Linked DNA regions of Homo sapiens: region 2 is linked to region 1. The links come from fine-mapping of genetic effects on plasma protein levels. A gene starts in region 1. The other region holds a variant in brackets. All regions are shown on one strand. Distances are between the middles of the regions.

The links. A credible set is the group of variants that fine-mapping cannot tell apart. PIP is the posterior inclusion probability: the model's chance that the variant is causal. Protein levels are from antibody-based Olink assays in UK Biobank. Linkage for the fine-mapping came from a reference panel and not from the study's own genotypes, which makes the PIPs less certain.
Region 2: its variant is the best candidate, but not a certain one, in a credible set for the plasma level of the SCRN1 protein (UK Biobank, PIP 0.85). The variant lies in the coding sequence of SCRN1. If it changes the protein, the assay may bind it differently, which can mimic a change of level.

What each region holds. Positions count from the first base shown.
Region 1 is chr7:29,988,729-29,991,743 of GRCh38, forward strand. SCRN1 (secernin 1) reads right to left here and starts at 1,073. Exons shown (of 8, transcript NM_014766.5): 1 at 914-1,073. It overlaps FKBP14-AS1 (FKBP14 antisense RNA 1), which reads left to right. Exons shown (of 3, transcript NR_187577.1): 1 at 1-65. RefSeq lists silencers at 300-419, 510-779, 790-839, 860-1,199.
Region 2 is chr7:29,925,539-29,928,038 of GRCh38, forward strand. SCRN1 (secernin 1) reads right to left here. Exons shown (of 8, transcript NM_014766.5): 7 at 914-1,094. Among named protein-coding and RNA genes, the nearest start is that of FKBP14-AS1, 62 kb to the right of the region's middle. The variant T/C (reference allele first, on the strand shown) is at 987.

The DNA.
Region 1 (3,015 bases):
CAGAAAATCCAGAAAAGCCACGTTATTTAACAGAACCCTACAAGGTCAGCTTTGAGTCAAAGCAGGTAACAGTTTCCTTCGATGTTTTCATGGACATTTTTATTCCCAAATCCGAGTTCTCGCCAATTCTCTAAAGTTCAAGCGCCCCTCCTGCTTTGCAGACCACATTTCTCTCGGCCCTCGCGAGTGAGGTCGCCAAATACTCGACGCCTCAAGAGCGAGCCGAGGAGGCAGAGGCCGACCAAGCCGGCCTCTCGGCAGCCCCGCCCGGCGCCCCGCGGAGAACGCCCGGGTGCGGCTCGAGGGAAGTTGTGTCAAGTCCCACGCGCGGCCCGCGGAGAACCCAGGGGCGGCCCGCGCGCGTCGGCCTAGCGGGGAGGGCTGCTCCGGGACACGGTGCGGCGGCCGCGGGCGAGTTGGACGCGCTGGCAGAGCCGGGCCGAAGGCGGCGGGCGTCTCCGGGCAGCCATGTTCGCGGCGCCCGCCCGCGCAGCAGGTACGGCACCTCGGGGAAGGTGCCCGGCTCGCCCCAGACCCCAGGGTGGCGAGGCCAGGGGCCCACAGGCACATCCCAGTGGGCAGCAGGTTGGCTGCCAGGAAAAGGAAACCCAGGAAGAGCAGCGCGGGGAACCCGGCTGCGGTGCGGGAGCCCGGGGCCGGCATCCCTCCACTGCACCCCCGCAGTCCCCGAGCCGAGTCACCCCGGCTTCAGGCCGAGGCCACCTCTCCTCTGACCGCCCCCAGGCTCCCAGCCCGCCCGGGCCAGCACCGGGAATCGGCCTGGGGTAACGCTACCCGCGGGTTCGGAGGGACAGCGGGAGGAGATGAAACGCAGGAGGTGGCGATGGCGGGTGGGGTGAAACCGCCGGGAAAGCAGCGCTGCAAACGCCCTGCGCTCCCAGACGCGGCTCACCTGGGGCGGCGGGCTCCGGGCTCCGCTCTCCGCTCTGCGGTGCTGAGGCTGCGGCCGCCGAGGGTGCGGGTGCTGCCGGGTCCGGATTACTGCGGCGACCTCGGGGGCTGCAGCTGCAGTGGCGGAGGCGGCCGCCGGGCGCTTCCCCCTACCCAGACTCCCGGCGCTGGGGCCCGCCGCCCCCCGCAGCAGCTGGCCCGACTCACGTGACCGCGGGCCCACCCTCCGCCTCCCCCACCCCGGCCCCCGGGGCCCCGCCGCACCCCGCGCGTCTGGCTGCACGGGCCGCGGCGCTGCTCACCGTCGAGTAGGGAGGGGGCCTGGGAGCTGGAGGAGCGGCCGAGAGGGCGTATCTCGCCGCAGAAAGTGGCCCCCTCTTTGCTAGATTTTTATTTCTTGGTTGTGGCTCTCAAAAGGGAAAACCCGGGCTTCAAGGAGCCAGGCCCAGCATCCTTTTGGCGCCTCTTCCCGACGTTTGGTTGCTACGTCCGGGCCTCGGCGCCCACACAAGATTTCCCCGGAGAGAAATGTGTCCTGTACCTTGTTGACTCGCACGTCCAAGTCGAGTCCCTGGTTTTAAAAGTGCCGTCCTGTACCATGTTGGTAAGCCAGACCCTGTCCCAGGTACTTGGACATTGTGGCCTAGAGAGGTTAAGTAACTTGCCCAAGGTCACACAGCACGTAACTAAGCCAAGATTCCATATCTGGGTTAATAAAGTTATGTACAGGGACTTGTGTGTTGTGTGTCTGTGTGTGTGTGTGTGTGTGTGTGTTGATGCCAGCGTCAACTCCATCTTTTATAAGTAAATAAGAAAAGACTATCTCAAAAGATATGAAGACGTAATTCAGAGGAAAATAAATGCAATTCTATCCTGGCACACGAAAAGATATTCAGGCTCACTTAACTGCAAATCAAATATGTGGGGTAGCATCTTCCACCAGCCAGATTAACAAAAATCAAAACATTTTGAGTCTTGCTTTGTCGCCCAGTCTGGAATGCAGTGGCAGGATCTCGGCTCACTGCAAACTCCGCCTCCTGCCTCCCGCCTCCCGCCTCCCGCCTCCCGGGTTCAAGCGATTCTCGTGCCTCAGCCTCCCAAGTGGCTGAGACTACAGACCCACGCCACCAGCCTCGCTAATTTTTTTTGATTTTTAGTAGAGATGGGGTTTCACCATGTTGCCCAGGCCGGTCTCAAACTCCTGAGCTTAGGCAATCCGCCTGCCTCTACTATCCAGCTTCCTTTAAAAAGGAGAATGATCTTTATTTGCTAATACAAAACTATTTCCAACCTATACTAACTAAAGAAAAATAAAAAGCTAGGTGCAGAACGTTGTGTGTGTTATTTGTGGGAAGAAAATATATATGTATGTCTGTACTTATTTTTGTAAATGCACAGAGTATCTTTGGAAGAGTACGTAAGAACCTGTAATAGATGCCACCAGGGAGCAGAACTGGGAGACTGGGTGCTGGGGAGAGAAGGAGACTTTTTTCCATGCCCTTTGAATGTTGAGCCTGTGCTTACAGTCTGACACATGAGTAAACGGATAGTGGGGAAGGGCTGAGGAAGTTGGTGTAGGTACTGCAGAATAGAGCATTGGTTCGTAGACTCTTGGAGCACAAAGGTACTTTACTGTTCTTTTAGTCTAGCCAAGAAAACTGTAGCCAATGAGTCTAAATAATCAATATTAGAAATTTCTAGCGGGCTTATTCCTGGGTTCCAGCCCAGATCTATGGAATTCAGAGTCTCTGGGGCTGGAGCCAGGGAACCCGCATTTTTCAAGCTCTTTAGTTGTTTCTCTTGCATGTTAAAGTCTGAAAGTCCGTGAGGTGTGGGTAGGGAGAGCATTAGGAAAAATAGGTAATGCATGCTGGGCTTAATACCTAAGTGATGGGTTGATAGGTGCAGCAAACCACCGTGGTACACGTTTACTTATATAACAAATCTGCACATCCTGCATATATACCCCAGAACTTAAAATAAATATTAAACTTTTTTTAAAAGTCTCAGAGTCGCTGTTTTATTTTTTGTTTGTTTTGAGATGGGATCTCGCTCTGTCACCCAGCCTCGAGGGAAGTGGCTCACTGCAGCCTCTACCTCCTA
Region 2 (2,500 bases), 63 kb before region 1:
ATATAGGCTTGAATTTATATAAAGTCCATCGGGGTGGCTGCTGTGGACACACTGGGTGCTGTGGAACGTGCTTTGGGTGGTTTTCTTGTTTGAATTGATGACTTATCACTTTATTAACCAAAGGTGTGGGACTGGGGAGAGCTGCACTTTGAAGGATTACGACTTCTTTTTTAAAACTAGGAATATGAGTCTGGGCGCGGTGGCTCCTGCTTGTAATCCCAGCACTTTGGGAGGCAGAAGCAGGTGGATTGCTTGAGCTCAGGAGTTCAAGACCAGCCTGGCCAACAGGGTGAAACCCCGTCTCTACTAAAAATACAAAAAAAAAAAAAAAAAACCCTAGGAATATGAGAATATTTTCTAAAACTATGTTTGTACTATGGTAAAACATATGTATTATAACATAAGATTGACCATTTAAAAACTTTAAAATGTATAGTTCAGTGCATTAAGCTCATTCACAATGTTGTGCAACCAGCACCACCAGCCAACTCCAGAACTTTTTTGAAACAACATATGATTGTATCTTTAATAAAATGTTGCCAGCAAATAACAACTTTTTACCCCCAAAAGTACATAAGGAATTTTACACAATATATAACAGTTATCCCTAACGTACTGCATATTCCTATTATTCCTACGTAAACAGTAAATGTAAGTAAGATACTCAGCCTGCTGAATTCCAAAATAACATGAGAAGCAGAAGCTTTGTCTTATTTGGTTTCAAGAGCCTGGGCAGGAAAATGGACACCAGCCTTCTAGGAAAGGCCCCAGGAACCTGGTCTCTGGGAGAAGCCCGGTCACACTGGATGGGTGGGGGTAGGGTCTAGCTTGACATCTGCTTCCCTGCCTCCTTCCTCGCTGACCTCGCCCGCCCGCCTCCGCCTCCGCCTCTGTGGCCCTCATGCAAGCTCACCTGGTCACTTTCGATGATGGCACGTGCCCACTCGTGGGCTTTGTACAGCTCATGCCGGCGGTCTGGTTTCTCC[T/C]GGAACCGAGGCTCCTTTTTGGCAGGGTCGTCATCCCCAAAACAGGGAGACTGTGTTTTGGGGACAAGTTTTACGTCATCAACAAAGATGAAAGGCTTGAATATGGACCTGGAGAGGAAGGAGAGGCACTTCAGCCAGGCAGAGGCTGGGACCCGGGAACACCCAGAGACTGTCCTTTTATTCAGCAAACATTTCCCAAGCCAACTTATGGTGGGTGGTGGGTGTGGGTGACGGGTGGGTGGGTGAGTGCCAAGAGAGACATAACTGCATGTTTTAGTCGCTATTTTAGCAAAACTGCAGCCATTTACAAGCTGCAAATTCCTCTACTTACAGCAAAGAGACATCAAAACAGACTTCCTTTGTTCTGAACCATTTGAGAGGACTCTTTTAGCAATAAAAAGTGAGGCAAACAAACAGTGTTCTGAGAAACGGTGCAAGGAGCCATCTAGCTGAGCGAGAGAGGTTTGCCTTTTTTTTTTTTAATACCGTGGTCTGAGAAGCAGCCTTTGGGAAAGGAAGGGCCTTTTGGTTTGGGTTTGTTTTTAGTTTTTTTCTGAGGTTCTACCTTACTGAAAAATCTATGGAATATCTCTGACAGACCCAAGGAGGGGACAGAGTAAGAAAGATGACAGAAGAGGCCTTGGAGGGTGCACACCACACAGAAGTCTGGTTGTGTGAGAGAGCTAGCACAGGGCACAGCAGGTAGCTAATGCCCCCCAGCTCTCTTCAATTCAGTTCTCTCGGCAGGATGGATGTTATCTTCGGGAAAATGGCTGTGCGTATGCCTGCATGTGTGTGTACTTGTACAAGTCTAGGATACATCACCCCCCCACCCACCCACCCACACACACACACACACACAAGAGCCACGCATATAAACAGCTGTGGCCTGGGATCCCAGGCCAACGGGCTAAGGGACCACTATGGCCAACTGTAACGCCGGGGAGAGAGCCTTATCCTACCCTCCCCACATCCAGAGGAAACACTGCTGGATCAGAGGGCTGCTCCTGGCAGGCATGGGCACCTCTGCGTCCCAAGGATTGCCTGTTTTCAGCTGTACCATGGGGCAGCACCTGCAATAACAGCAGGAGAGAAGGAACTCCCCATATGTGCCCCATATGTATAGGTCAGATTTGTCAGATTTGGACATTTTTTTCTCCTCTCAACAGGTGCACTGTGGCCCACCTCGGGTACCTCAAGTGGGCTAGAGGTGAGCTAGGATGTTGATTCCCTCAGCCCTGGGGCATCTGGAGCTTGAGGAAGCCAGGGCAGCCTTGCCAGTATGGCACACAGGTATGAATATTTTCAGGTATGGGCAAGGTATGGTGGCTCACACCTGTAATCCCAGCATTTTGGGAGGCTGGGGCAGGTGGATCACTTGAGGTCAGGAGTTCGAGCCCAGCCTGGCCAACATGGTAAAACCCCGTTTCTACTAAAAATAAAAAAAAATTAGCCGGATGTGGTGGAGTGCTCCTGTAATCCCAGCTACTCAGGAGGTTGAGGTGGAAGAGTCG